4 separate regions of the Homo sapiens genome follow, and regions 2, 3 and 4 are each reported to be linked to region 1. Evidence: microRNA targets listed by miRTarBase, many of them from high-throughput screens and not tested one by one. Region 1 holds a microRNA gene; each other region holds the end of a gene's coding sequence.

The links. The annotated mature microRNA hsa-miR-6076 reads AGCAUGACAGAGGAGAGGUGG and lies in region 1 at 2,409-2,429, opposite strand. An mRNA with a match to its seed (bases 2 to 7 or 8) in the 3' UTR can be bound and repressed. Matches are read on the target gene's strand: a 7mer-m8 pairs with bases 2 to 8, a 7mer-A1 pairs with bases 2 to 7 and ends in A, and an 8mer does both.
Region 2: miRTarBase lists GK5 as a target of hsa-miR-6076. Seed matches in the 3' UTR shown: 7mer-m8 at 3,413-3,419.
Region 3: the mRNA of FNIP2 is a reported target of hsa-miR-6076. Seed matches in the 3' UTR shown: 7mer-A1 at 5,162-5,168 and 7mer-A1 at 3,206-3,212.
Region 4: miRTarBase lists RFT1 as a target of hsa-miR-6076. Seed matches in the 3' UTR shown: 7mer-A1 at 1,760-1,766, 7mer-A1 at 2,587-2,593, 7mer-m8 at 2,799-2,805 and 7mer-A1 at 4,651-4,657.

Annotation. Positions count from the first base shown.
Region 1 is chr14:49,961,707-49,968,827 of GRCh38, reverse strand. MIR6076 (microRNA 6076) reads right to left here and starts at 2,429; the gene lies at 2,317-2,429. LOC100506446 (a long non-coding RNA gene) reads left to right here and starts at 5,796. Exons shown (of 6, transcript XR_007064156.1): 1 at 5,796-7,121. RefSeq lists a silencer at 3,563-3,632 and enhancers at 6,861-6,950, 7,001-7,121.
Region 2 is chr3:142,159,287-142,166,399 of GRCh38, reverse strand. It overlaps GK5 (glycerol kinase 5), which reads left to right. Exons shown (of 16, transcript NM_001039547.3): 16 at 630-7,113. The coding sequence ends at 778. Among named protein-coding and RNA genes, the nearest start is that of TFDP2, 13 kb to the right of the region's middle. RefSeq lists an enhancer at 1,376-2,111.
Region 3 is chr4:158,903,736-158,910,856 of GRCh38, reverse strand. FNIP2 (folliculin interacting protein 2) reads right to left here. Exons shown (of 17, transcript NM_020840.3): 17 at 2,807-6,391. The coding sequence ends at 6,313. The region is part of intron 4 of SPMIP2 (sperm microtubule inner protein 2); the gene reads left to right. It also overlaps the pseudogene LOC124900178. Among named protein-coding and RNA genes, the nearest start is that of SPMIP2, 130 kb to the left of the region's middle.
Region 4 is chr3:53,086,091-53,093,211 of GRCh38, reverse strand. It overlaps RFT1 (RFT1 glycolipid translocator homolog), which reads left to right. Exons shown (of 13, transcript NM_052859.4): 12 at 594-843; 13 at 1,142-4,729. The coding sequence ends at 1,309. Among named protein-coding and RNA genes, the nearest start is that of RFT1, 41 kb to the left of the region's middle.

The sequences.
Region 1 (7,121 bases):
ATCTTGTTCCTAGATATATACCCAACAGAGATGATGCACAGCTATACTAAAGAGCATGCACGATAATGCTCTTAGCAACATTATTCATTAATAACTGAAAGTTGGCAACAGATGTAACCCAGATGTCCATCAATCAATAAATTGTGATATATTCACATAATGCAATACAATAAGCAATGTAAATGAGCATACTACAGCTACACACGAGTACGTGAAAGACTCATAAACGTAATGCGAATGAAGGAAGCTAGACGCAGAAGAGTGCATGTTTGTATGAGTCTGTTCATATGACAGTAGGAAACAGGAACGACTAATCTACAGCACTTAGATGTTGGGGTAGGAATTACTTTGGAGGAGGTCGATCTTTTTCAGGGGAGAGTCTTCTTTTGGGGAGAAGGTCTTATAATATTTTATTTATTGACTTGGGACATGATTACAAGGAAGAGTTCACTTTGTCTTAATGCATTGATCAGTACACCTTTAATGTATACACCTTTCCTTTTTCTTTTCTTTTTTTTTTTTTTTTTTTGAGATGGAGTCTCGCTCTGTCGCCGAGACTGGAGTGCAGTGGCGAGATCTCAGCTCACTGCAACCTCCGCCTCCCGGGTTCCAGCGTTTCTCCTGCCTCTGCTTCCCGAGCAGTCGGGATTACAGGCACCTGCCACCATGCCCAGCTAATTTTTGTATTTTCAGTAGAGACAGGGTTTCGCCCTGTTGGCCAGACTGTTCTCAAACTCCTGACCTCAGGCAATCCACCCGCCTTGGCCTCCCAAAGTGCTGGGACTACAGGCGTGAGCCACTGCACCCGGCCTATACACCTTTTCTGTATTTTTATTTTTAAAAGTTCCCAAAATTGAAATGGTCAGTAGGCCACTGCAACCAGCCTATACACCTTTTCTCTATTTTTATTTTTAAAAGTTCCAAAAATTGAAATGGTCAGTAGGCCACTGCAACCAGCCTATACACCTTTTCTGTATTTTTATTTCTAAAAGTTCCAAAAATTGAAATGGTCAATAGGCATATGATAAAATGAACAATCTAACTGGTAAATCCAGGAAATGCAATTTAAAATGACACTGTTTTTTCTGCACATGACGCTGGCAGTTTTAACAAAATGATTATGTCCAACGCTGATGAGTATAATGGTGGCTATAAAAATCAGAACAGAATTTTGGGGGAGAAACTCAATATTATTTACAAAAATTTTAAATGTGCATGCCCTTTGATCCAGAAATTCCACTTCTAGAAATAATATCCTTCAGAAACACTCATACATACACACACCCATTTGTGTATAAGAACATTTGTTGCAGCATTGTTTGTAATGGTGAAAAATGGAAAACCACCTATGTGATCCTTTGCTAAAATAGTGGGTAAAGAAACTATGATACATCTAGAAGGAATGCAACAGTTAAAATGGGGGATGCCTATATGCACTAACACAGAAAGAGCTACAGGGAATGTTGTTAAGTAAAAGAAAAAAGTAAGTCAGAGAACAGAACATGTCATGTGATCGTTTATGCATAAATGACCTGAATGGGCCGGGTGTGGTGGCTTACACCTGTAATCCCAGCACTTTGGGAGGCCGAGGTGAGCAGATAACGAGATCAAGTCCATCCTGGCCAACATGGTGAAACCGCGTCTCTACTAAAAACACAAAAATTAGCTCAGCGTGGTGGCGCGCACCTGTAGTCCCAGCTACTCGGGAAGCTGAAAGCTGAAGCAGGAGAATTGCTTGAATCCAGAAGGCAGAGGTTGCAGTGAGCTGAGATTGTGCCACTGCACTCCAGCCTGGGTGACAGAGGAAGACTCCGTTTAAAAAAAAAAAAAAAAAAAGACCTGAATGTCCTTAAAACATTAAAACCACACACACAAAAAATTAAAACAACGGAAAATATCTGATGTGGTTCATTTATCTAAATACTTCACAAATCCTAAGACAAATAAATTTAACTTCTCTCTTGAGAAGTTATATGCACTGTATAAGAATTCTCTGGAACTGTCTCTCTACACCAAACCTGAAAGGACTGCACCACAATGGGAAGGAACTATTTCTTGTTCCACAGCCTCCTAGAAGAGTCTCAGTGTCTCCTCAGAAATGCCAGCTCCCACACGGGCCTGAGCAATAGCTCATGGAGTCTCTCCAGACCTTTGTGCTTCTGAGGCACTTTTCAATAATTAACTAATCTGCCTAAAGGGTGGGGCGGGCTATGGCTCCCACAGACTCAGCACTCCCTTCAGCCAGCTGCCCTCTGGAATGCAAAGGCATCCATCCCCTAGGAATGGCTGTTGGTCAATCCCTGCCCCACCACAGCCCCCAAACTCAGGAGGGTGAAAGGGCCAGGGCAGGAAAGCAACTTCCCCTCTCAGATGTTCTCCTGGAGAAATTATATTACTCTCGCCTACCTCCACCTCTCCTCTGTCATGCTCCTCCAGCATCTGAAAAAGAACGTTCCAACAGGCAGCAGGACAAATTACATGTCAATGCTGTCAGTTTCAATGCTGCCCTTTGTTGCTCCAGGTCCTATGAACCACAGAAAAATGTATAGGTCCTTTCCATTTTTTTTTTCTTTCTGGCACAAATAAAATAAACAGCAGAAGCAGTTTCTATTTCAGTATTTTCAAAGGGATGGTGTCTGGAGGAATGGTTCCCAATCTTTGGAATTTAACAAACCATTAAAATTTTGAAAACCTTTTGAGAGACTAACATAGGACTGCTCACTTCTATTTTGCCAAGCACAGACACTTAAAAAACAACCTGAATTATTGTCACCATCATTTTATGGTGGGAGATGATTGGACACTTTAACCCCAAAACAATGTAATCATGACAATCTCAGATTTTAAAACAGGACTTCAAATTTAATACACTCAGATGCATGAGAAATACACATGTATTTCACGTAGACTGGTGAACACTTCCTTACAGACGCACCAGCCCCTTGGAAAGAACTGGCAGAGACTAAATCATAAGTTTCCAAACCTGACTATGCCTGAGAAAGATAGGAAGGCATTAAAAATAATAATAATAATAATACAGATTCCAGATTCCCACCCCATCCATATTTACTGTATCACCTTCTGAGGATTTCTTGAGACGGAGTTTTGCTCTGTCACTCGGGCTGGAGCGCAATGGCACTATCTCGGCTCACTGCAACCTCTGCCACCCAGGTTCAGGTGATTCTTCTGCCTCAGCCTCCAGAGTAGCTGGGATTACAGGCACCCACCATCATGCCAGGCTAATTTTTGTATCTCTGTAGAGAAGGGGTTTCACCATGTTGGCCAGGCTGGTCTTGAACTCCTGACCTCAGGTGATCCACCTGCCTCGGCCTCCCAAAGTGCCGGGATTACAGGCGTGAGCCACCTCGCCCGGCCGCCTCTGAGGCTTTCTAAGGGTGGGGCCCTGGAATGTGTATTTAAAACTTTTTTTTACTATGGTGAAATATACATAATATAAAATTTACCACTTTAACCATTTTAAGTGTACAATTCAGTGGCAATAAGGACATTTACAATGCTGTATGTAACTTTTCATCATCCCAAACAGAAACTCTGTACCTGTTGAGCAATCACTCCGCATTTCCCCTTCCCCCAGCTCCTGCCAAACCTCTATTCTACTTTCTGTCTCTGTGAATTTGCCTATTCTAGGTCACTCAAAGAAGTAGAATCACACAATATTTTTCCTTTTGTGTCTGGGTTATTTCACTTAGCATAATGTCTTTGGTGCTCATCCGTGTCATAGCAGGTATCAGAATCCCACTCCTTTTTGTGGCTGAATCCTTCTCCATTGCATGCATTTGCCACATTTTGTTTATCTGTTCATCTGCTGGTGGACGGTTCTGTTGTTTCTACCTTTTGGCTATTATGAACGGTGCTGCTATGAAGGTTGTTGTACACGCATCTGTTTGAGTTCCTATTTTCTATTACTTTGAGTATATACCTAGGAGTGGAATATGCTGGATCATATGGAAATTCTGTATTACCACCAAGGAACAATCAGGCTGTTTTCCACAGTGGCCGCACCATTTTACACTCCCTCCAGCAATATGCGAGTGTCCCAAGTTAGCCACATCCTCACCGACATTTGTTGTTTTCTGTTTTTGTTTTTATTACCAGCCATCCTCATAGATGTGAAGTGGTATCTCATTGTGATTTTGATTTGTATTTCCCTAATGATTAATGATTTTAAACATCTTTTCCTGTGCCTATTGGCCATCTGTGTATCTTCTTTGGAGAACTGTCTATTGAATTACTTTGCCTATTTTAACATTAGGTTGTTTGGTTTGTTGTTGTTGAGTTGTAGGGGCTTTTAACATATTCTGGATAGTAGTCCCTTATCAGATGTGTGATTTGCAGGTATTTTCTCCCATTCTGTAGGCCATCTTTTCATTCCCTTCACAGTGACCTTTGATACACTGAAGTTTTTTATTTTGATGAAGCCAAATTTGTCTATTTTTTTCTTTGGCTACCTGTGCTTTTAGTGTCACATCCAAGAAATCTTGCCAAATCAAAGATTATGAAGATTTAGTTTAGGTCCTTGATCTATCTTGAGTTAATTTTTGCACATGGTATAAGGTAAGGGTCCAGCTTCATTCTTTTGTAAGTGGATATCCAGTTTTCCCAGCACTATTGAAGACAAGGGTTTGTTTCCCGGCTCTCTATTTTATTCCATTGATCTATACGTCTGTTCTTATGTTACTACCACACTACGTGGTCTACTGTAGCTTTGTAGCAAATTTTGTGTGAGAAATCTCACCACGCTACCCGCTCCAGAAGTGCCTGCAGGAAGGAATGAAAGGACACAGGGGCGAGCGAGTCTCTGAGTATGAGAAGATCGTTGACAGCCCTGGAGCAGCAAGGGTGCTCTGGTGTGCGGCTTCCACCCTTCCCCTGATCGCAGCTGCCTCTGTTGGGCTAGCTCCTCCAACCATAGTGCTTGGTCTGTAACCACCAGAGTTCTGGGCAAGTCCTTAGTCTGAAAAAGGATGAAGAGAGGAGGTGTTGTGTGCAAAATGTGATTCACAAGAGTGGCCAGGAGTCAAAGGCCTCTGTCCCTCTTTTTTTTTTTTTTTTTTTTTTTTTTTGAGATGGAGTCTCGCTCTGTCGCCAGGCTGGAGTGCAGTGGCGCAATCTCAGCTCACTGCAACCTCTGCCTCCCAGGTTCAAGTGATTCTTCTGCCTCAGCCTCCCAAGTAGCTGGGACTACAGGCGCCCACCACCACACCCAGCTAATTCTTGTCTTTTTCGTAGAGACGGGGTTTCACCATATTGGCCAGGATGGTATCAGTCGATCTCTTGACCTCATGATCTGCCTGCCTCGGCCTCCCAACTTTTTTTTTAAATTAAGGAAATATCTCTGAGTCATAAAAGACCCCTCCTTGAGCTTTCATAGGCCAAGCAGACCCTGCTGCAGCAGGAAAAAGGAGGTTTCTTGACACAAATTGATTAATTCAAAGTTATTCTAAAACATTTTCTTGGCCTATTCATACACAAAGGCACAAAGATCTTGGACAATGGAAAAGCATCACAAAACTTATATTTAGAGAAACTACTTTCCACAGTTTCCTTTGCCCTTTAAACTCAGTCTCTAGCTGGGCATGGTGGCTCATCCCTGTAATCCCAACACTTTGGGAGACCAAGGCAGAAGGATTCCTCGAAGCCAGGAGTTTGAAAGCAGCCTGAGCAACACAGCAAGACCCCATTTCTATTAAAAAAAAAAAATTAAAAATAACTAAATAAATAAACTCATCCTCTCTTCTCCCTACCCCCAGTCTTCCTCAGGCACCAGTCTACGTTTCTAGTAAAAACTTGCTTGGCCACTTGTGTAGAAAGAGGAATTAATTTAATATTTGAATACTCAGCTGACTGGTTCTCCATGGGAGCAAGTAGCCAAGTAAATATCCAAGAGAGAACGAGGGAAGGGACAAAATGGCACCAAGCCTGAATTGTGAAGTCCTCTATCATCCTGCAACACCCTGGATATGCAAACCGAATATCCTCTCTCTTGGTGAGTCACGGCCTCCCACGCCCAGCAGGGTGTAGAAACATTTGACTGAAACCTGTATAAAATAGTAAGAACAAGTCAAGCAGGTAAAACATTTCCTGGCTGTCAGTTTAATAAAAGGTTCAACCCTGCTTTAAGATGGAAGGAAGACGGGAGGCGGGGTTTCAGAAATACAGGTTTTACATAATCCCACAGAAACCAGGGATCTGCAATAAGGCTTGAAGATTTTTAGTCTCACAGGTATTTCCGTCTGTAAACACAAATGCACATGGAAGCTCTGAACACATAGTTTGTGTTTGTTTTATATTAAGAGGATGGGCATTTCTTTAGAGCTCCAGGCGTTGAGTAGATGACCATTTGGAGGAGATGATGAGTTTCCTCTTCAAAATGCAAGATGTCGATCAACATTCATGCTGTTCCTATTTCTATTTTTTTCCTCCCTTCTACCCCTTACTCCTGAAATGGATAAGAAGAGGCAATAATAGCATCCCAGCAAATCAGAACTGGCTCAGATGCCAAAGGCCTAAAAGAGACGATCGCATTAGCAAGAAGGCCTGTGACTAAAAATCCAAAACCTAAAACTACTATACGTAAACCTAGGGCTCAAATAGCCTACACTACTGTGACATCAGAAGCATTATTTCTCAAGATTGAGAAGGGCTAGTGAAAACGCTTCTGGGCCTGCAAAGCTGTGAACTGATGTGCAAGGCTGCAGTAGCCCAAGCTGATCCTGATGAACACTGGAGCTGTCTCTGCCTCTTTATGTAAATAGAAAATGTTCCTAATAAACGTGTACTAGGTCGTTGTCGGTAAACACATGTTAGGCACCCGCTTGGCCTGCACCGATCTGACCAGATCTATTTCCATTTCCCCGAACCATCGCTTGGATGATGAAGCACATCGCAGAGTACTGCTTCATCACCATTCAGGAATTGTACCCTTTTAAATTTCTATATGGGTATGCGCTGCTTTTGACACAGCTTTTGTTGTAAGCAGGCACTAAAATAGAAGCTTATAATTAGCTATCTGGGGAGGCAAGTGTGTGGTAGAACAGAGCTCAGCAAGAGAAAAGTCAAGGCAGGTCCTGGGGAAACACTGCATGGAAGATGAGTAATAC
Region 2 (7,113 bases), not on the chromosome of region 1:
TCCAACTTTGAATTTTATGCATATTCCAGAAAGTTGACATTTACCTTAAGCTGTAAGACAAAAATCTTAATTTGTCTTCATTTATTGTAATTGCATAAAAAAGAAAATATCCTATTTCTTTCTCTTTTTTTTTCTTCTGTTTTTCTATTTTTAGAGACAGGGTCTTTCTCTGTTACTCAGGCTGGAGTGCAGTGATATAATCATAGCTCACTGCAGCCTTGAATTCCTAAGCAAGTGGTCTCCCCTCCTCAGTCTCCCAAAGCACTGGGATTGCAGGCATGAACCACTGTGCCTGGCCAGAAAATATACTGTTTTTCACTTGGGATTGTTTTAATAATAGCAAGTTATGAAATTAAATGATGGCATAGGGTAGCTGCTTTAGAAGTGATGTGGTGTCCCACCACACAGAAACTGAGCTGAAAGTTAGAAACCAAAAGACTTGAAAATACTGGTATAATTATTTTCAGGAATGATCGATCTAACAAAATTCAAAAGTAACAAAGTATTTTGGATTGTTTTAAAAATAGTTTTTGTTTACCTTTCTACCAGCAACTCGTATAGGTTTTTGGATAAACTTTATTGGACTCATGATTTGCCTTAAAATTTGAGGATAATTTTTTTATCTATAGGGTTTTGGACTGACAAGGAGGAACTAAAGAAACTGAGACAAAGTGAAGTGGTTTTCAAGCCACAGAAGAAATGTCAAGAATATGAAATGAGTCTGGAAAACTGGGCCAAAGCAGTGAAACGCTCCATGAATTGGTATAACAAGACATAACACTAAATGAAATGATCAAAACCATAGGTAGCTGGTTTATGTGACGTGCAGATGAGATGAAGCTCAGGGATAACCCATATGACAATGACTAAGAGGAGAAAATTTTAAATAAGCTTCATAACTTAAGAAGCATTGCTTTTAAAAAAACAAAACGGAACAAAAAACTCTTATTTTTTTCCCCTAAACCATGGTAAGGCAGCAATACCTCAAAACTTTATATCTTCTATTTTGTAGCAAATTCCAAAGGACATTAGTCATTTCCAACCACATTTTGACAGTTATGGGTCCTCTTCCTTTTTATACTGGGTCAGTGGTACATAGGAACATAATGATTTACCATCCAAGCTAATAGTTCTGGGTCAAGTACCATGCACATATTGTTCCAAAATTATGTGAAACGTATTTCTTTAATTCTTTAAGTGGGCTATTTGAAGTACATATAGCTAAAAAGAAAGAATAACTGAGAAAATGTGGAATTTTGAAACATTAATATTTTATGTTTAAAGCCATAATTTCCTAATATTATATCCAAATATGAGCTTAATATGTCCCTCTCAGATAAGCTTATGAGATAGTTAATGCTTTCCTTTACTGGTCTTAAAGACACTGCCTTAATTTTTCCTTGTTCAACCAAAATCTGAGCATTCTTTCTATGTTGAAAACACTGAAAAACTAATTTTAGTTAATGAACTAGAAAGAATATTGATTTTTAAGAAACAGAAAAATACTACTTATTTTCCTTCTCAAATAACGTTTCTTTCAAAAACTTCTGGCTGAAGTATAACATGCTGGTAGTTAACATAAATCTTGTCTTTCTCTTGTTCTTTATCTTTCTTTGTTATTTAGATGCTTGTATAAATGTCTTTTGTTTTTATTAAGTGCCTAATTGACAGAGCTTAATTTGAAGAAGTGCCCTAATTTATTGACCACTTAAGAATTGCCTTTATTGGGGTATTTTATTTGTTCCTGCGTCTTTTTGATGTTTGTTCAGTCTACTCATCCCTGTGAGTATGTGTGGGGGACAGCTGATAGAAGGGAGGAGAGTGTGTCTATGCTCAGGATTGCCCTTTAGCCACTCAGCCAGAGATCCACAGGGAGCAACAAGGACAGTTTCACATGCTTAGACTTTCTTGGAAGAAACAGTGAGGAGGAGTAAGTCGTGAGTAGTGTCAAGCTGGATGTAGAATTGTCCTAAGGCAGTTGACCCCACCTTCCAACATGTTTTCACTTTATTTGCCCCTCCCTACATTTGGGTTAGGTTCCATTTGGATTTGCAGCAATAATGACTTTATTTCTCTCTTGGTCAGGATTTGGCACATAAAATCCTTTTATTATAGAACTAGCTATTTTAGTTACATAGTAATGTAACTAATGGAGAGATTTATAGAGAATTTTGTTTTTGCTGTCATATATGTCCATTTTGGAGACAGATATGATAGAACTAGAAATTAAGTTGCATTTCTGCAAGTGCCATTTGAATGAACTTCAAGTATCTTCTTAATTATTAAATTTTCTGATGAAGGCATTGTAACAAATATATAGTATTATTAAATCTAATTAATATTTGGAAATATTAATAAATAGGTATTTTATTTACTGTAAAAAGTCAAACTTCATTATGTAGATAAATCTTATTCTTTTCATTCTTTCCCCTGTTTACATCCTTTTTACAAAGCTTAGTCACCAATTAAAGCTTTCCTATCAAAATCACATGGAAGCTGCTCTGTTGTTTTACTGTTACACATTCTGTTTCTCAGTGGGTGTAATTTTTTTTTCTTTTTCTTTTTTTGTAGAGACAGGGTCTTGCTGTGTTGCCCAGGGTAGTCTTTAATTCCTGGCCTCAAGTGATCCTCCCACCTTGGCCTCCCAAAGTGCTGGGATTGCAGCCGTGAACCACTGCACCCAGCCAATGGGTGTAATTTCATAGGAAATAATTCTTTTTGTCAGAATGTACTGAATTGTAATATTAATACCTGAAAATTTGTTAGTTCACTTCTTTTCCACGTTCTTCTTTCCCAACATATAACCACAAAATAAAGGATAAATACTTTGGGCTGTGTGCAGTGGCTCATGCCTGTAATCCCAGCACTTTGGCAGGCTGAAGTGGGCGGATCATTTGAGGTCAGGAGTCCAACCTGGTCAAACACGGTGAAACCCTGTCTCCACTAAAAATACAAAAATTAGCTGGATGTGGTGGTGCAAGCCTGTAATCCCAGCTACTCGGGAGGCTGAGGCAGGAGAATTGCTTGAATCTGGGGGGTGGAAGTTGCAGTGAGCCAAGATCATGCCACTGCACTGTAGCCTGGGCAACAGAGCGACACTGCGTCTCAAAAAAAAAAAAAAAGGATCAATACTTTTCAGATAATGTTGGAAAGTAACTTTGAATGTCCCTCATCGGAATTGAGCATCTCCTCAAGTGTCAGTGGCTATTTTTTTCTTCTGTGAATCTAAAAACTAATATTTTATTTTTAATATTTGTGGCCATTTTTAGTGATAAGACTTTAATAAATATTTTTGGACTTAACTAAAATCAGAAACATGACCACATTTGCTTTTGTGGTTGCAGAAACAGTTGATAAGATCAATTGAGCAACAAAATTGTCCTTTCTTTTTTTTTTTTTTTTTTGAGACATTGTCATGCTCTGTTGCCCAGGCTGGAGTGCAGTGGCATGATCTCGGCTCACTGCAACCTCCCTCTCCTGGGCTCAAGCAGTCCTCCTGCCTCAGCCTCCCAAGTAGCTGGGATTTCAGGTATACGTCACTACGCCCAGCTGATTTTTGTATTTTTAGTAGAGACAGGGTTTTACCATGTTGGCCAGGCTGGTCTCAAACTCCTGACCTTGTGACCCACCCACCTCGGCCTCCCAAAGTGCTAGGATTACAGGCGTGAGCCACCATGCCTGGCTTGTCCTTTCTGTCTTCCAAGTTTGTTTTTCATTTGTATGCTAATATTTGAAGTTTAGAAAAATTTGTGCTACTTCTCAGCATGTTTTATTTTCCCATTATAGATCTATCAGATATTTTTAGAAGGTCTGCAACTGTCTGATAAAGGAAGAGAATGTTCCTGTTCAATCTATCTTAAAGTGCTACTAATTGCTTTTATACTATAGACATACTGATTTTTTCATCTTTTTTATCCAACCATGGCATGGTTTCCTAATCTCAGCATTGACATTTTGGACTGGATAAATCTTTATTTTGGGATGCTATGCTGTACTTTATAGGATGTTTAGCAATATCCCTGACCTCTGCCCTCTAGCTACAAGTACCATCCCCCTAGTTGTTATGGCCAAAAATGTCTTCAAACATTGCCATTCTGAGAGGCAAAATTGCCCCCAGTTGAGAGCCACTGATACAGGCTGTTAGAAGAAAATCGAAGACTCAGTGAATATAGTGTCATACTCCTTTTCTTTCTGCCTCATTTTACCTTAGGAAATGGTTGTTAGCAAAAAAATTAGTTAATCGTATCTTGAAATAAATAGGGTATCTATTTTGCTGATTAATAAAGAAAAAATAAATCTCAGCTGGGCACAGTGGCTCACACCTGTAATCCTAGCACTTTGGGAGGCCAAGGCAGGCGGATCACTTCAGCTCAGGAGTTTGAGACCAGCCTGGGCAACCTGGCGAATCCCTATCTCTACAAAAAATACACAAATTAGCTGGGTGTGGTGACACACACATATAGTCCCAGCTAATTAGGGGGCTGAGGTGGGAAGATCACTTGAGCTCCAGGAGGTGGAGGCTGCAGTGAGCCAAGTTGGTGTCACTGTACTCTAGCCTGGGTGGCAAAGTGAGACCCTGTCTCAATCAATCAATCAATCAATCAATCAATATCTCATGCTGTAATTGTCTTCTGATGTTTTCATCCACCCAGCCCCACCTCTGCAGCCTTAATTACTGGAGTAGGTCCATGATTTCAGTGTAGGGTTAATGTATTCTGCAGATCATCTTTGATTTGACCTGCTTTTTTGCTTCCTTTTTATCTCTGAACAAAGGAGATCATCATTCTCTTTAATCTGCCTTCTGTGTAAATCTCTACCAGACTGGAAGCTCCCTGAAAGCAGAAACTGTCTGCTTCCCCAGAACTTAGCACTGTGCTTTCATGTATGTGGGATAAATTTTTACTTTGTTAGTGCAACTTTGTTTGTACACGTTATCCTTGATATTACATACATTTGTTGATGGGGGCAATTTATATTTGTTGTGAGTAAAATACTTTTTTGTTGGATTAAGAAGAACTATACTCTTCCCAGCACTTTGGGAGGCCAAGGAGGACGGATTACCTGAGGTTAGTAGCTTGAGACCAGCCTGACCAACATGGAGAAACCCCATCTCTATTAAAACTACAAAAAAATTAGCTGTGCGTTGTGGCACATGCCTGTAATCCCAGCTAGTCAGGAGGCTGAGGCAGGAGAACCGCTTGAACCCCTGAGGCAGAGGTTGCGGTTGAGCCGAGATCGCGCCATTGCACTCCAGCCTGGGCAACAAGAGTTAAACTCCATTTCAAAAAAACAAAAACAAAAACAAAAACAAAAAAACAAAAGAAGAACTACTCTGTAGTGAGAGCTAGAATCCTCATGTTGTTTATTTAAAATTTTTGGCCAAGTACAGTGGCTCATGCCTGTAATCCCAGCACTTTGGGAGGCTGAGGCCAGAGGATCACTTGAAGCCAGGAGTTCAGTTACAGCTTGGGCAGCAAAGTGAGACCTTGTCTCTACAAAAAAATTTTTTTTAAATTAGCCAGGTGTGGTGGTATGCCCCTGTAGTCCCAGCTACTCAGGAAACCGAAGCAGGAGAATCGCTTGAACACAGGAGTTTGAGGGTGCTATGAGCTATGATTGTGCCACTGCACTCCAGCCTGGGCAACAGGGCAAGGCCCTGTCTTAATAAAATAAAATAAAATTCTTAATATGTTTATATATTTGAAAAACTATTTGTGTAGAGACACATGTCTGTAAATACACATAGATATATTAACTTTTTAAGCTTTAATTGAAGCCTTTCTCTTCACAGGTTTTATATATTTGACTGCAGATGACTAACAGATTGAATTTTAAGAGTGCGAAACACTCTGGTGCTATAGGGAAGGAACTTCATAAATAGCCCCTCCTGTAAGGGACCAGTCTTTAATTTAAAACAGTCCAGCCCAGGAATCTTGCAAGAATTTTGTAATTATTTGAGGAGAGATGTAGATATACCCTGGAGTTCTTTGACTTTAAGTTATTCTAGAGTCATCCCAGAGATGGCCTAGAAGACTTGAATGTACCCCAAAGGATTCTGAATCCCTTTGGGAAATTTAGACTATGATTTTCAGTAAGAATTAAAAGCCCCAGGATAAGCGTGGTGGTTCACACCTGTAATCCCAGCAATTTGTGAGGCCAAGGCGGGAGGATCGCTTGAGCTCAGGAGTTCGAGACCAGCCTAGGCAACATAGTGAGACCCCACCCATCTCAATTTAAAAAAAGAGAGAAAAAGGCCAGGTGTAGTGGCTCACGCCTGTAATCCCAGCACTTTGGGAGGCCAAGGCGGGTGGATCACCTGAGGTCAGGAGTTCAAGACCAGCCTGATCAATATGGTGAAACCCCATCTCTACTAAAAATACAAAAATTAGCCAGTCCTGATGGCATGTGCCTGTGGTCCCAGCGACTTGGGAGGCTGAGACAGGAGAATTGCTTGAACCCGGGACGTGGAGGTTGCAGTGAGCCGAGATTGGGCCACTGCATTCCAGCCTGGGTGAGAGAGCGAGACTCTGTCTCAAAAAAAAAAAAGAGAGAGAGAGAGAGAGAGAGAGAAAGCCCCAAACATACCTTGGGCCTTTACAACCTACTTGGTCCCAGAATCGTCTTATTGTAAACCCAAAGCCAGGTCTTCTGGTTCGAACCAGTCAAAATGGGTAATCTAAAAAAGTTAAATAGATGATTCAAAATCGTGTTGGTGGTTTTTTCTTTTTAAATCCCCTTTCCAAGTAAAAGGAATCTTTTTTTTTTTTTTAAGTTTTGAAGCCTCATAGCCATAAATATTTTGGCACCAGCATCTATTGGCACCTAAGTCATTGGCTGTATCATATTCCCATGGGACCCTTGTTCCTAGAGGAATGCAGGAATGATCTTGGAGTGGGAAGGACAGAAACAGGTGCTTGCAAAATCAGATATTTCTGAAATTCTCTGTTATTCTATTTCTACTGTCTTTCCCCACTTTACTATAAATTTGATCTGTTATAAAATGGCTGTGTTTAGATAGATACCCGTGATGTTTAGGAAACAAATGATATAGAGACTCCCATTTAAATGAATCTTATCTTTATAAGAAACAGCCAAACTGTTTTCCAGACTGGC
Region 3 (7,121 bases), not on the chromosome of region 1:
TGTTTATTTTTAGGAGTTGGCTCCTGTGATTGTGGAAGTTGGTAAATCCAAACGCAGCAGGGTGAGCCAACAGGATGGAGACCCTGGGAGAAACTGATGTTGCAGCTCCAGCCTGAAGGCAGTTTTCAGGCAGAATTCTCTCTCCCTGGGGGATCTTCAGTCTTTCTCTTAAGACTTTCAACAGGTTGAATGAGGCCCACCCACATTATGGAGGATAAATAGCTTTATTCAGGGTCCACTGACTTAAATATTAATCTCACCTAAGAAATACCTGCACAGCACTGGGCTGGGAGTGGTGGCTCATGCCTGTAATCCCCGCACTTTGGGAGGCTGAGGCGGGCAGATCATCTGAGGTCGGGAGTTCAAGACCAGCCTGACCAACATGGGGAAACCCCGTCTCTACTAAAAATACAGAATTAGCTGGCGTGGTGGTGCATGCCTGTAATCCCAACTACTCAGGAAGGCTGAGGCAGGAGAATCGCCTGAACCCGGGAGGCAGAGGTTGCAGTGAGCCAAGAACGTGCCATTGCACTCCAGCCTGGGCAACAAGAGCAAAACTCCATCTCAAAAAAAAAGGAAAAAAAAAATACCTGCACAGCATCATCCAGATTAGTGTTTGACTAAATATCTGATTACTATCGCCTAGCCAAGATGACACATAACATTAACCATCACAGGCCAGACCTGGTGGCTCATGCCTGTAATCCCAACGGTTTGGGAAGCTGAGGCAGGAGGGTCATGTAAGGCCCAGAGTTCAAGACCAGCCTGGGCAACAGAGTGAGACCCTGTCTCTACAAATTTTTTTTTGTTTTTTTTTGAGATGGAGTCTCACTGTTGCTCAGGCTGGAGTGCAGTGGCACAATCTCAGCTCACTGCAACCTCTGCCTCCCAGGTTCAAACAATTTTCCTGCCTCAGCCTCCTGAGTAGCTGGGACTACAGGCGCGTGCCACCACGGCCGGCTAATGTTTTGTATTTTTAGTAGAGGCAGGGTTTCACCGTGTTAGCCAGGATGGTCTCGATCTCCTGACCTCGTGATCTGCCCGCCTCAGCCTCCCAAAGTGTTGGGATTACAGGCGTGAGCCATTGCGTCCAGCCCCAAATTTTTTTTAAAAAAATTAGCTGGGTGTGTTGGTGCATGCCTGTAGTCCCTGGTACTTGAGAGGCTGAGGCAGGAGGATACTTGAGGCCAGAAGTTTGAGGTTACTGCGAGCTATGATCATGCCACTGTACTCCATCCTGGTGACAAAGTGAGACCCTGTCTCTTAAAAAAAAAAAAAAAAACCATCACAGTACCCCTCATCCATTGTGAGGATTAAATGAGGTAACATACAGAAAGCGTCTGACAGAACGGTCCAGGCACTAGGGAACCAAAAAGCACTCTTGTGTGCACGTGCGTTTAACTCCTTTTATCAATGGCATGATTTTAAAGCTGTTTCACCCGAGTACACAGCAGGGAAGCCATCCTTGGAGAGCTGAACATGCACGAAAAGGAAAAAAAAAAAGCTTCAGGGAAAAACACTTGAAATTTTCATTTATCAGAAAGGATTTTGAAATATCTACTGTAACTTTCCCCCCAGTCTTTAAGATAACATAACTCAGTATGGCATTATGTTGGTACCAACAGTTGCTCTCAGTGGCATATTTTTTCCTGAGAACAAATATATCTGTGGACATCATCCCTTTTCAGAGCAAATATTTTGTAATGCCCCCTTTATTAACCTAAAATAAAATTTACAAATATACTCAATTTATATCATACCAATATAATGCCCTATTATACTGTAATTTAAAAGAAATTTAAAAGTAATTTATAATACTACTTTAATACATAAATATTGGGGCAGTAGATTAGAAAATATAATGAAGTTGGCCAGGCACAGTGGCTCACGCCTGTAATCCCAGCACTTTGGGAGGCTGAGGTGGGCAGATCTCCTGAGGTCAGGAGTTCAAGACTAGCCTGGCTAACATGGTGAAACCTCGTTTCTACTAAAAATACAAAAAATTGGCCAGTTGTGGTGGCGCATGCCTGTAACCCCAGCTACTTGGGAGGCTGAGGCAGGAGAATCACTTGAACCCAGGAGGCGGAGGTTGCAGTGAGCCGAGATTGCACCATTGCACTCCAGCTTGGGCAATAAGAGCAAAACCCCATCTCAAAAAATATAATGAAGTAGGCATCTATATACAGAGTCTTCATGAATGCAGGGGCTACAAATGAAGACTGACAGAGATGTCCTGTATTGGTGACTCAAATTCCATGGGTACCATAGCTACCAAACTATGTTACCATTGGAAACGCAGTTTTCCAAAAGTATATCAATTCTTGGTAAAGACCAAGTGACCACTTCTTGCTAAAATTCTAAATCTTACAAAGTAAAAATCTTCCCTCAATTTATACAACAATTGCATTCCTGGAGAATGCATTATATACAAAAATCATGTAAAAATACATTGTGTTTTTTATGTATAGCAGAATTATCTGCTTAATTATAAACAGGCTTTTTTAGCCATATAAATGTCCAGCAGGACATTTAAGGGTTACGCAGGAGGTGGGTGGGACAAGTCCTCATCCCATGGGGCTGTCTCACATGGTGCAGGACCTCTCGCCTATCATCTGAGCCCCCAGCCTCTCTGTGCCAGTAACCCTAACCTGGCATTATGCTAACCAAAAATGTCCCTGCATTTCCAAAACACCCCGGTTAAAAACCACTGAGATAAATAATCAGCTTGTTTTCAGCACGAATTATTAGAAATGAGACCTCTACATTTTATTAAATATAACAAATCGCATGCAGCACCAGGAAAATGTTCAAGATAAATTCAAAAGTTTTATTGCACCAAATGCCACAGAAAAATGGATCAAAATAATACATAAACAAGTTAAAAAAAATTCCCACACAATGACATTGGTATCTATTCAGACTGATCAAAAACGAAGTCCTATCAATTTCTCTTATGGAGCTTCAAATGACAAATTCCAGAATTTTCTCGTTTTTGAAATACCACTTAAGTTTAAGCATATTGCAATCTCACTTTCAAGATATATCGTTCATCATATTTTGACATTTAAAAATTAACATTCAGAGGGGACTTCTTGATTTAGGCAAAAATTATATTAAAATACCCTCTCCCCCAAGCACAATAAAAAACAAATGGTTCACATTTACCAAGAGAAGCTGAAGACATTTTCAATTTAACGTGGAAGTATGCATGAACAAAATATTCTCTAAAGTACATATTAGCGGAAAAATCCAGACTTTAAAAGAATTTTGGGATACTTTATATTCTTTATTATTTTTATGTACAACCAACTCTAGTGAAGAACCTAAAAAGCTACAGACTAAATTTTTATAAAATCTCAGGACCTAATTATAAGAGCCCAAACAACGGTTTAGTATCATTTAGCAAGCGGGGATTTTTCTCCCTCCAAAAACGTTAATTTTGAAAAATATGGTTAAGTTTAAAAAGTTGCAATGTGTAAACGGCAGTTCCATGGGATGTGAAAAGATTATAGTTACTTTCATTAAAAAACAGCACACTTCGAAAAATGGATTGAAGCCTGTACAAAAAGCTATTTAACACTGATTGATAAAAAATAAAATACTTTGGAATTATGCACAAGTATGGAAGCTACATTTTAAATTTTCATTGTCATGTCTAAAACGTACACAATTACCTTTACATTCATTTCACTTACCAATTTATTAAAAATAAAACTGCAACATGCTAGAAAGAGGTCCATCACAGGGACATTTACAGACTTCTGCTCTGTCATGCCTCACTAGCTTGCTTGGAAAAGCAAGATGCTACAAAAGTTACACTCAACAGGTAAGACTTAAAAGTTGAAGAAACCCTAAAGGTGGAATCCTGTCAACTGAGGTAGATTTCTTTTCTTTTTTAAAAAAAATTGTTTTATGTTTTTTCTTGAGGTGGGCATGGGAGCAAGTGGGGTCCCTTTCTTGCCTCTGCGGCTAAGCCAGAATGAAGCCACTGGGTGGTGTACGGCGTGTGAGCGGTGGATCTCAACACAATTCTGTGAGGTTTTTTTTTTCTTTTTTGCTTTTAGGAAGAGGCTGAATTTAAGACAAAGAAAACTTGAATGTTAAATATTTAAAGGATTATAAAAGAGCAGCAACATTCTTGGTCTATTTTTGTAGGCAATAGATATGAGGATTAGGTTCTGACTGGAATCCTGAGTGTCACGGAGACAGCCCCCACATGTGACCCACCTGTAGTTTTCCAACAGGCATTTTTCCAAGAGTGAGTTTTGGAACATTAAATTAAGAGCAAATTAAATTTTCTCAGGCTTTGAGGGGCCTGGGCTGAATTTTTTTAATGTATAGAGTTTAGAATCAACGATTTAAAGCTCAGTGTCCCCTATATGGGTCTAATTATGAACATGCCACTATGTCCACATTAGAATTGAACTGATTTTGTAACAAGTTATTTTCTATGAAACCCTGGAAGGTGGTGAATGAGGGAAAGTGCCCAAAACATGTAAACAAGAAAAAAGGAACTAGAGACGAGGGGAATGCTTTAAACTGTAAAAGCTGTAACATCAGCTCTGACAGTTTATTTACACGTAATGAGAAACGGATGTGGGGTGAGCTGAGCCACAGGTGAGGTTCCTTCTCTCTCTGTAACACAACAGCAAACAATGATGTCATGGAACTACAGAACTTAAAACACCAAAGTCAAATGCTAGGCAAAAGGAAATAGGAAAACATTAAAAAGAATGAACATTTCAATTTTCAATGAATGACATAAAATGATAAAGATCTTACAAAACTTAATGCACTCATCTACATTTTGCATCATTAAAAAAGGGAAAGGTAGCAGTTCTGATTTTTATCAAATGAAAAAACTGAAGTCATTCTAGTCCCTAATAGGGAAATTACTTCATAATCTTAGGTTCAAAGATACATGAAAAGAACTGGAATTAATTCATAAAACAGTGGAAGGGAATCAGAGCCTGGTTAACTGCTTGAGATCTGCAAAGTGCTAAAGATGTTTTGCTTTGCTAGCTTAGCTCCTGTCCTTTAATGACCAATATTTAAAAGTCTTTTACTTTACCCTGGATGTCAGTACATAGTCTGTTTCACGGTCAGTAAACTGAAGTTTCTTTTATATTAACAGAAAATTAGGTTGTTTTTTTTTTTTTTTTGCATGAACTTTAGGAAATCATTTTGGTCGGTTTTATACAATGTGTAAGTTAATGTCTGGAAAGATGTTTTGAAAAGGATGCAGGAATTAGAAGGCACAGAAATGATAATATAAAAATTTAGATCATATATGAATTTTTTCTAAATGTTCAAGCTAATTGCTTTCATTAGTCATCCTGAACTGCTGCAGGTTTCATTTCCCACCAGGACAGCTGTGCCTTTTAAAGTAAAAATAGTCATTTGTATTAACTATAAGGAAAAAGTGGCTTCAGCTGGAAGAACTTACCAACCGAAACACTCTTGAGCTTATAGAAATAACTTTGGTAAGTGGCCTCTCTTAAAAAGGCTGCTGAAAGCTCTAAAATATAAGGATAAAACATACGGTTTCAGACTGTACACTTTGCTGCTACAAACTACATCTTGATGGGATTAAGAGGCTACATTGATTCTTGGGTTTATTGCACCAACAATCCATCTCTGACCTACCCATGGCTGCATCTGAAACAAGGTAAACTCCAAGAAGAAATGAAAACAGTGGGTCCCTAAAGCACTCTTCCCAACAAGCAATTCTTACATGTTTTATGTCAAACAGTCACTGCTAAAGCCACTGGAGCTGAAGATGGCACAATGTGGCTTTCTTTGCTTTACCTTGTCTAAAAAGCAAACTGTGACCTGGAATCCAAAGTCTGTATTCTGATTGTTGTCTCAGAATAGCAAAATATGTTTTCTCCAGTTTGGGGAGCTCATGCTTAAACTTGGAAGCAGTTTCCTACTGGAATATTATGTACACTGCTGACCACCCCGCTCAAGTCACTTGTCTTTATTCTGCCCAAACAGCACAAGGCAATCTGTTGCAACAGCTTAGTGTTTAGTGCTTATGTTTCCTCCTACCAAAAAGGTCAGTTTCTTTGTTGATTCATGGGTAACAAATGGCCTAAAGTGTTCACGACAATCACAAATGCTATTATGTCAAGTAAACCTAAGTCTTCAATGAAGCATCAGCTTGACAGCAAAAACACAAAACAAAAAGGTGGAATGACTGTTTCTGTTTGCTCTTCTCATGCTTTTGACATCACAGAGAGCTTATTCCTTTCTCCTTCAGTTGAGAATTTGATTTTTTTCTTCCAAGGAAGAACTGTCCTGAGCTTTAGCTTATAAGAGTATTTGAGCCACATAAGGAGAATGAGTACTGGCAATAGCAGTCAACAGAGGCAGGTCGTTGGATTCAATCCTGAATATTGAGAAAAGAAAAGAATATTACTTTAAAAGAGCATGGTTTTATGAGAAAGTATTATTTCTTTTTATGAGAAAGTATTATTTCTAGGTACTAAGTTTGATAGATTATCATTTAAAACTAATGAAAAAGCAAAACAGATGGAAGGATAATAAACTTACTCTTTTAATAAAATATTCCAGTGGACACTGACCAGGGAGGCAAAGGGAGAGAAATACAGGAAGTGTGTTGTGCCTGTGTGTGGACATAAAGCTCTTTTTCCCTTGGCAGGGGTCACCAGACTTTCTAACTTTCCTGTATTCCCTATATAACTTCATTGTATCATACTTTAAGGTATTCTCCATTATAAACTCATTCTTCCAGTCAACACTTCTAAATGCATACTGATTTTTCACCTAAGTTCAAATTGGTCTTAGAAAAACGATGATGGTAGCAATTTCTTAAAAAACATTGGGAATTTGTTCAAAGTTTATACTGGGATCCTCACTGAGCATTTAAGCCACAAGATTCTGAGAGCAAAGTGACACTAAAAGGTACTGGGTTAAGAGACATCATGGTTTCAAATGGACACAGCTTTGGCTGCCTCTCTTACAGCAGAGGTGGATACAGTATGGGCACTGGCTAAAAATGATGCCAGGTGTCATGAAAAAAAAAAATTGAACTGTTTCAGTTTGTGGACTATGTCCTAATCCTTACCCTTGAATTCCTCAAAGTAAAAATAAAACAG
Region 4 (7,121 bases), not on the chromosome of region 1:
CCAGTCATTTGCTTTGAATGGGGTCTACTGCCCAAGGTTACTGGGTGCTGCATTTCCCAAGGGCAGTGGTGTGAGGTACTGAAGCTTAGGGGTCAGAAGTCCGGCTGAGTGTTACCTCACTCTTGAGACAAATTACTCAACTTCTCTGTGCTGCTTCCCTTGTCTGTGAAATAAATCCAAGCTCTGCAGGGCAAGGCCCATGTGTGTTCATTCTCCAGTGTGTCCCCAGCACTCCTCACAGGGCCTGTCACAGAGTTAGCATCCAATGTCTAATTACCCAGGTCACATTCTTGTATCTCACATTGAGGACTTGGGCTGAACAGGGTTTTTATGTTTTGATCACAAAGTATCGCTTAACTAACTAATTATTGTCTTCAAAAAACATACATCTCCTGAGTTGTTTCTTACCTTTCTGCTCAGGGTAAGGGGACAGGGACATTCCCATGGTCTCCAGGTAGCATTCGATGTTATGAAAACCTGGATTCCAGGAGCTCAGGTTCTTTCTGTGAGTTGATGTTCATGGCCGCTGTTTTGGGAGCAGCCTTGTCCAGGGCAAGGTCACCACTGCCCTCCTTTTCCTGTCTCCTCCCCAGGTACAATTTTGTGATGCTGGCCCTGTCCTCCTCATTCCTGGTGTTATCCTATCTCTTGACCCGTTGGTGTGGCAGCGTGGGCTTCATCTTGGCCAACTGCTTTAACATGGGCATTCGGATCACGCAGAGCCTTTGCTTCATCCACCGCTACTACCGAAGGAGCCCCCACAGGCCCCTGGCTGGCCTGCACCTATCGCCAGTCCTGCTCGGGACATTTGCCCTCAGTGGTGGGGTTACTGCTGTTTCGGAGGTGAGACTCCCTGAGCCATCATGCCACATGCTTCTGCAGCTGCCCCGCTGTCTCTCCCGCTAGGCCTCCTCTTCCCAGGTTTTTGCCTCCTCCTGTCCCCTCCCCAGGCCTCTAGGGCAGCATCTTCTGATAATGTGACAAGAGAATGTTGCCAATGGGGAAACAATGGACCTGCAGTATGGCTGTTATGCCTTTTATCTGACTTAGAAGCTGGAACCACAGCTGTCTTCCCTGGCTGGTCCCAGAGGAAGGAGGTATAGACTGAGGAACAGGCACTGACAATGGTTTCTTTCCCCAGGTATTCCTCTGCTGTGAGCAGGGCTGGCCAGCCAGACTGGCACACATTGCTGTGGGGGCCTTCTGTCTGGGAGCAACTCTCGGGACAGCATTCCTCACAGAGACCAAGCTGATCCATTTCCTCAGGACTCAGTTAGGTGTGCCCAGACGCACTGACAAAATGACATGACTTCAGGGAAGCCTGGACACCCGAGGCACCTGGACCAGCTATGGGTAGTTCTGTGGGTGGAACACATTCTGTGTAAGAGCCCCACTGAGGGCTCTGCAGCGGAGTGACAGCAACCCCAGAGATGAGGCACCAGAGAGTGCCACTGCATGAGACACCTGTGACCATTCGAAGTCTGAAATGCGGGGGGGGAGTTTCATTTTTAAGTGAAGACCAAAAGCCCTTTAAAAATAATAGTTTTTTATCATTTTATAGTAATCAGCATTTTCTCTTTTACTAATATACTCATTCCTTTTGCGTATGATTGGCCTTTGGAGCTACATGCTCCAACAAACTATATCTTAATTGTTAACTGTTAATAATTATCTGGCCCAGAAAAAGAGATGCAGTGATTTTACCCTTCACAGGAATATTGAACTTCTTCTGTAAAAGAGAGAGAGAAACCTCTCTCTCTCATGCACCACATGGAAACAGAGTGTGGCCCTGAAGTTGTGGCTTTCTTTGTGTCAAAACTGTGGTCTGAGTTTTTAGAGAAGGAAAAATGCTACTCAGTGAGAAATCCAAGAAATGAAACCAGGAAGGTTTTCAGATCACATTTCCCAGAGTGAGTTCGGGAGAATCTTGCCTGTCGTGATCACACTGTTCCCCGCCGCCCCAGGTCAGCACATACTTGACCCAGAGTGGGCTCTCAGGATTTGTTGATTGAAGGGTGGGTGAAAGCTGGCTGGAGACTCCTGGCCTGGCCACCTGCAAGAGGCGGACTTTGAAGAAAACTGTGATCCAGTTGAGCCACTTTGTCCCTGAGGGGAATGCTGCTTTGCAGCTTTCTGTAACTTCTCACATGGGAATTGCACTGGTGACAGATAAGGTTTAACAGATGTACTTTTTTATCCTCAGAATAAGACAAGGCAAACTCTATATGGCTAGTATTACTGAGTCAGGTCCCTCCCGTTGACCCATTAATTCCAGCATTGATCAATACAACCAAATTCCAGCCCCAGGACAAGAGTGGCAGGCATGGGGGCCTGGTACTCCAGGCTACAGTGTGAGCCCAGGTGTTCTGCACCTTGCAGCCTGCACACTGCAGGTGAAATCATGAGCAGTGTTCTGGAGTGTGAAGTGTTTTTATTTTTTTGTTAATGTATTAATTCCTTTTAGATATTAACCCCCCTCAGAACTATATGCACAAACTATAACTTGGATGTTAATAATCCTGTCACTCAGTGCCCCAAACCTTCTGTGTCTACACCTAGAGAGAGGGCCAGTAAGGGCAACTCCTATCATGCATTAAAATGCATGTATTTAAATCTGCTTGCCCAGAGCCAGTACCCAGGGGCTAAGGATTAAGACCTGTCAGTACACCAAGACTGGGGCCCAGTCACCTGGCAGGTTTTTATCTACTCAGAGGGAGAATGCTTTGCACTAAGTGGGAGAAAAGCAGCTAAATGCAAGGTGTCCTGAGCAATTAGAGGACCTCCAAAGCATGGCCTCAGTCATGCCTTCATCGGGCAAGGTCAGGCCAGCTCAGAAAAATGGATGGTCCCATAGGGTCAAGTGGAGCACACACGGAAGGCAGTCCTCCTTCCCTCCCATGTCCTTTCTCTGTCCCTGGCATCCACAGAAAGGGACCTTCAGTCCTCATGAGCTGCTTCTCTGCAGCTGCTGATCACCCTCCCGGAACCCTGCACCTATCCCGTGCCCACCTGACCCCAGACTCAAGCATGATCCTCATTCTACCTGCCTCGGAATCACCTGGATTGCAAGTCAGAACATGGCTTCCCAGGACCCACTCCAGGCCTTCAGGGTCTGTGTCTCCCAGGAGGAGGGCTCTGAGATTGGCTTTTCTGGCAAGCCCACGTGGCTTTGATGCCACCAAGGTTGGCATGCCCCATTGTCTTCCTTCGTGACAGGCCCAGGACCATCATGCTCATGCTCACAGTGCCTGTTCTCTGCTCCAGGAACAGAGCTGCTGCTCTACAAGCAGCCTTGTGACTCCGGGGTCTCTGGGAGCAGGACTCCCCAGGCTTGTGCTCTCTCAGCTTGAGAGAGGCTCTATGTCTGAAGGCAGTGCTCACTCTCTCATCCCTCCCCTGCTGTTCGCCCAGTGCTGCTGTCAGGGCCAGCTCCTCTTGAAAGACAGCCAGCCGCAAAGGCAGCCCAGGGCTTCTTCCGGTGTCCTGCTTCCCTGTATCTAGGGAGAGTTGTACATGTGGCTGCGTGTTTTCCCAGGACTAGCCCTGCCGCCTGGGCTGTCAGCACTTTGGCAGCAGGTCCTCTGTGGTTCTCTGCCTCTGGTGCCTCCCTAAAGCTCAGCTGGACCTGACCAGGCCTCTGGCATTTCCCCTGCTGGACCCCCTAGAGCCACAGCTGTGCCTCAGGGAGCTTGCATACATGTGGGCCAGCCTGCCTCACTTTACCCAAGTGGATTTGGGGAGCAGAAATCATACTTTTGGCTTTCAATACCACTTATAGTGAGGCTACTTCTCCATGGAAACAAGTCTCTGAGGCACAACCTTTATGAAAGGAAGGAGCATTCGTTGGTGAGAAGAACAGTATCGCTGACTTCCTGTGCTCCTCTGGCCACAGGTAACTGTTGGTCACTTCAGATTTGGCTTGGGGTCTCTCAGTGAGGAGCTGCTGCTGTGCTGTTTAATGCTTACCTGATGGCAACTTCTGGCTCTGGAACCGCTACTCTGCCCTGTTCCCAGCCACTTCCCAACCTGATTCAAGCAGGGCCCCTCCTTCCTCCTGTCTTTATTTATTTATTTATTGAGACAGAGTCTCACTCTGTCGCCCAGGCTGGAGTGCAGTAGCGCGATCTCGGCTCACTGCGAGCTCTGCCTCCTGGGTTCAAGCGATTCTCTTGCCTCAGCCTCCTGAGTAGCTGGGGCTACAGGCGCCTGCCACCACACCCGGCTAATTTTTGTATTTTTAGTAGAGACAGGGTTTCACCATATTGGCCAGGCTGGTCTTGAACTCCTGACCTTGTGATCCGCCCGCCTCAGCCTCCCAAAGTGCTGGGATTACAGGCGTGAGCCACCGCTCCTGGCCTATTCTTTTCTTTTCAGAGACAAGGTCTCACTCTCTCCTCTCGCCCAGGCTGGAGTGCAGTGGTGTCATCATAGCTCATTGCAGCCTCAAACTCCTGGGCTCAAGCAATCCTCCCACCTCAGCCTCCTGAGTAGCTGGGATCACAGGTGTGTGCTACCTCACCCAGCTAATTTCTAATTTTTTTTTGTAGAGACTGGATCTCACTGTTGCCTTGAACTCCTGGGCTCAAGTGATCCTCCTGCCTCAGCCTCCCAAAGTGCTGGGATTCCAGACCAGCCATTTTTTTTCCTTAATCATGCATTCCTGTTGCTAGTTTCACATCAGTCCCCTGGTTTAATAAGAAATAAAATATTTTCTTCACACTTTTGAAAAGACCTTTCTTCTTTCATACCCCTTCTCCCTCCAAAAGGGACAAAAATTCTTTAATTTCATAAGGAGGGTAGGTAAGTAACTTGAGGATGTGAACCTTTGGTGTTCCTCAGCTGGAACGTTTCTCTCTCTGTTGATGTTGTAGCTGGGACTGGGCTTCTTGACTTTGGAAGAGGGATGGTATCCTGGCACCTCCTGTGTCTGGGACTGAAAGGCCTGTGGTGTCTCCTTTGCTCCTCTCCCCATCCCCCCTTAAGCTGTATTTCCCGTTGTTTGCGGGACTTCTCTCCTGTCTTCTCCATCTGGCCTGGTCCTTGTTTTGTTTGTTTATTAAACGGCCATTCCTTGAGAAGTCAGGACTAGTTTCAGCACAGAGCAGGGCAAGTGTGTGATTTCAGGGGGTCTAGGACAGCCCCTTCACTCTAATATCCTCCTCCATCAGGTGATAGAATTTCCTTTCACCTAGTTCAAAGACTGTTATTTCCAGAATTTCCTTTCACCTAGTTCAAAGACTGTTATTTCCAGAATTAGAGAGGATACTGGAAATTCAGATTCCGCAGAGAACTCGGTGACTCATTCACACTAAGATGTAAAATAACCCCATCAAGATTTATTTCCTTTTTGTTCTCTAGTGAGAGGAAAAAAGAAAAAAGAATTCTTTGCCGGGCCAGGCGTTGTGGCTTGCGCCTATAATCTCAACACTTTCGGAGGCTGAAGCAGGAGGATTGCTTGAGCCCGGGATTTTGAGACCAACCTGGGCAACACAGGGAGACCCCATCTCTACAAAAAAATTTAAAAACTAGCTGGGCGTGGTGGCACGCACCTGTAGTTCCTATACGGGAGGCTGAGGTGCAAAGGATTGCTTGAGCCCAGGATTTCAAGGCTGCAATGAGCATGTTCGCGCTCCAACCTGGATGACAGAGCAAGACCCTGTCCCCCCACTCCAAAAAAAAAAAAAATTATTTCCTGAGCAGCTTTTGATGTTGAGGAAGAGACAGGCAGGAGCTGGGAGCATCCAGAACCTGGAGGAGGAGGGGCTCAGGTGAGAGGCTGGGCAGGCCCGGACGGTGGGAGCTGTGAGTGTTGCTGTGTGGCCTCTGGGATGGATGGAGTTCAGTTCACAGTGGGAAATCAGGGGCAGCATGATCCCTGGCCTAGTCTTAGAAGAGCCATGGCTGAAAACGGGGTGGGGACTAAAGAAGAGAGAGAATCCGAACAGGGGATATCCTTCACATATTTTATTTATTTTTTGAGAGAGTCTCGTTCTGTTGCCCGGGCTGGAGTGCAGTGGCACGATCTTGGCTCACAGCAACTTCTGCCTCCCAGGTGCAAGCAATTCTCGTGCCTCAGCCTCCCAGTAGCTGGGACTGCAGGCATGCACCACCACACCTGGCTAATTTTTGTATTTTTAGTAGGGAGGGGGTTTCACCATGTTGGCCAGGCTGGTCTGGAACTCCTGACCGCAAGTGATCTGCCTGCCTCCGCCTCCCAAAGTGCTGGGATTACAGGCGTGAGCCACCGCGCCTGGCCTCCTTCACATATTTACACACTCCTGCAGTTTATGGGGGCCAGGCACCGATGGCAAGTGAGACGGGTGTGCAGGGGGCTTGCTAGTGAGGAGAGCTTCCACCAGCAGCTCGATCCTGAGCACCTTTGGGAGCTGACCCACGGACTCATGAAGCTGCTTGCACAAGGTTCTCAGTGGCCCTAAGGAAGAGTTCTGGAAGGCACACTGGAAGCCGGGAGGCCTGTGGAGCCTGTCAGAAAGGACCAGATTTGGAAAGAAGATGAGCTAAGGCTCAAGTATCAGGGGTCCCCTAGAAATTTCTCAAAGACAATGAAACACAATGGACTAGAAAAAGCAACTGAAAGCCGGGCGCGGTGGCTCCCGCCTGTAATCCCAGCACTTTGGGAGGCCGAGGCAGGTGGATCGCCTGAGGTCAGGAGTTTGAGACCAGTCTGGCCAACATGGTGAAACCCCGTCACTACTAAAAATGCAAAAATTAGCCGGGCATGGTGGCAGATGCCTGTAATTCCAGCTACTCAGGAGGCTGAGGCAGGAGAGTCACTTGAACCCGGGAGGCAGAGGTTGCAGTGAGCCAAGATCGCGCCACTGCACTCCAGCCTGGGTGACAGAGCGAGACTCTGTTTCCAAAAAAATAAGTAAAAAAGAAAAAAAAGCAACTGAACAAGATCACTACTCTAAAATTTATTTACTGAATATTCCATGAGTGTCCAGGAAGTAACTGAGACTTGTGTATTTAATTTGGAAATGAGACTTCTGAGACAATCAGATGCAGACGAAAAATTATTTGCTTCACTATTATTTACTTACCTGAGTGAATTGGTCCTTAATGTTGTAAATATTTCATTTGCTAACTAGCTTTCAAGGTGG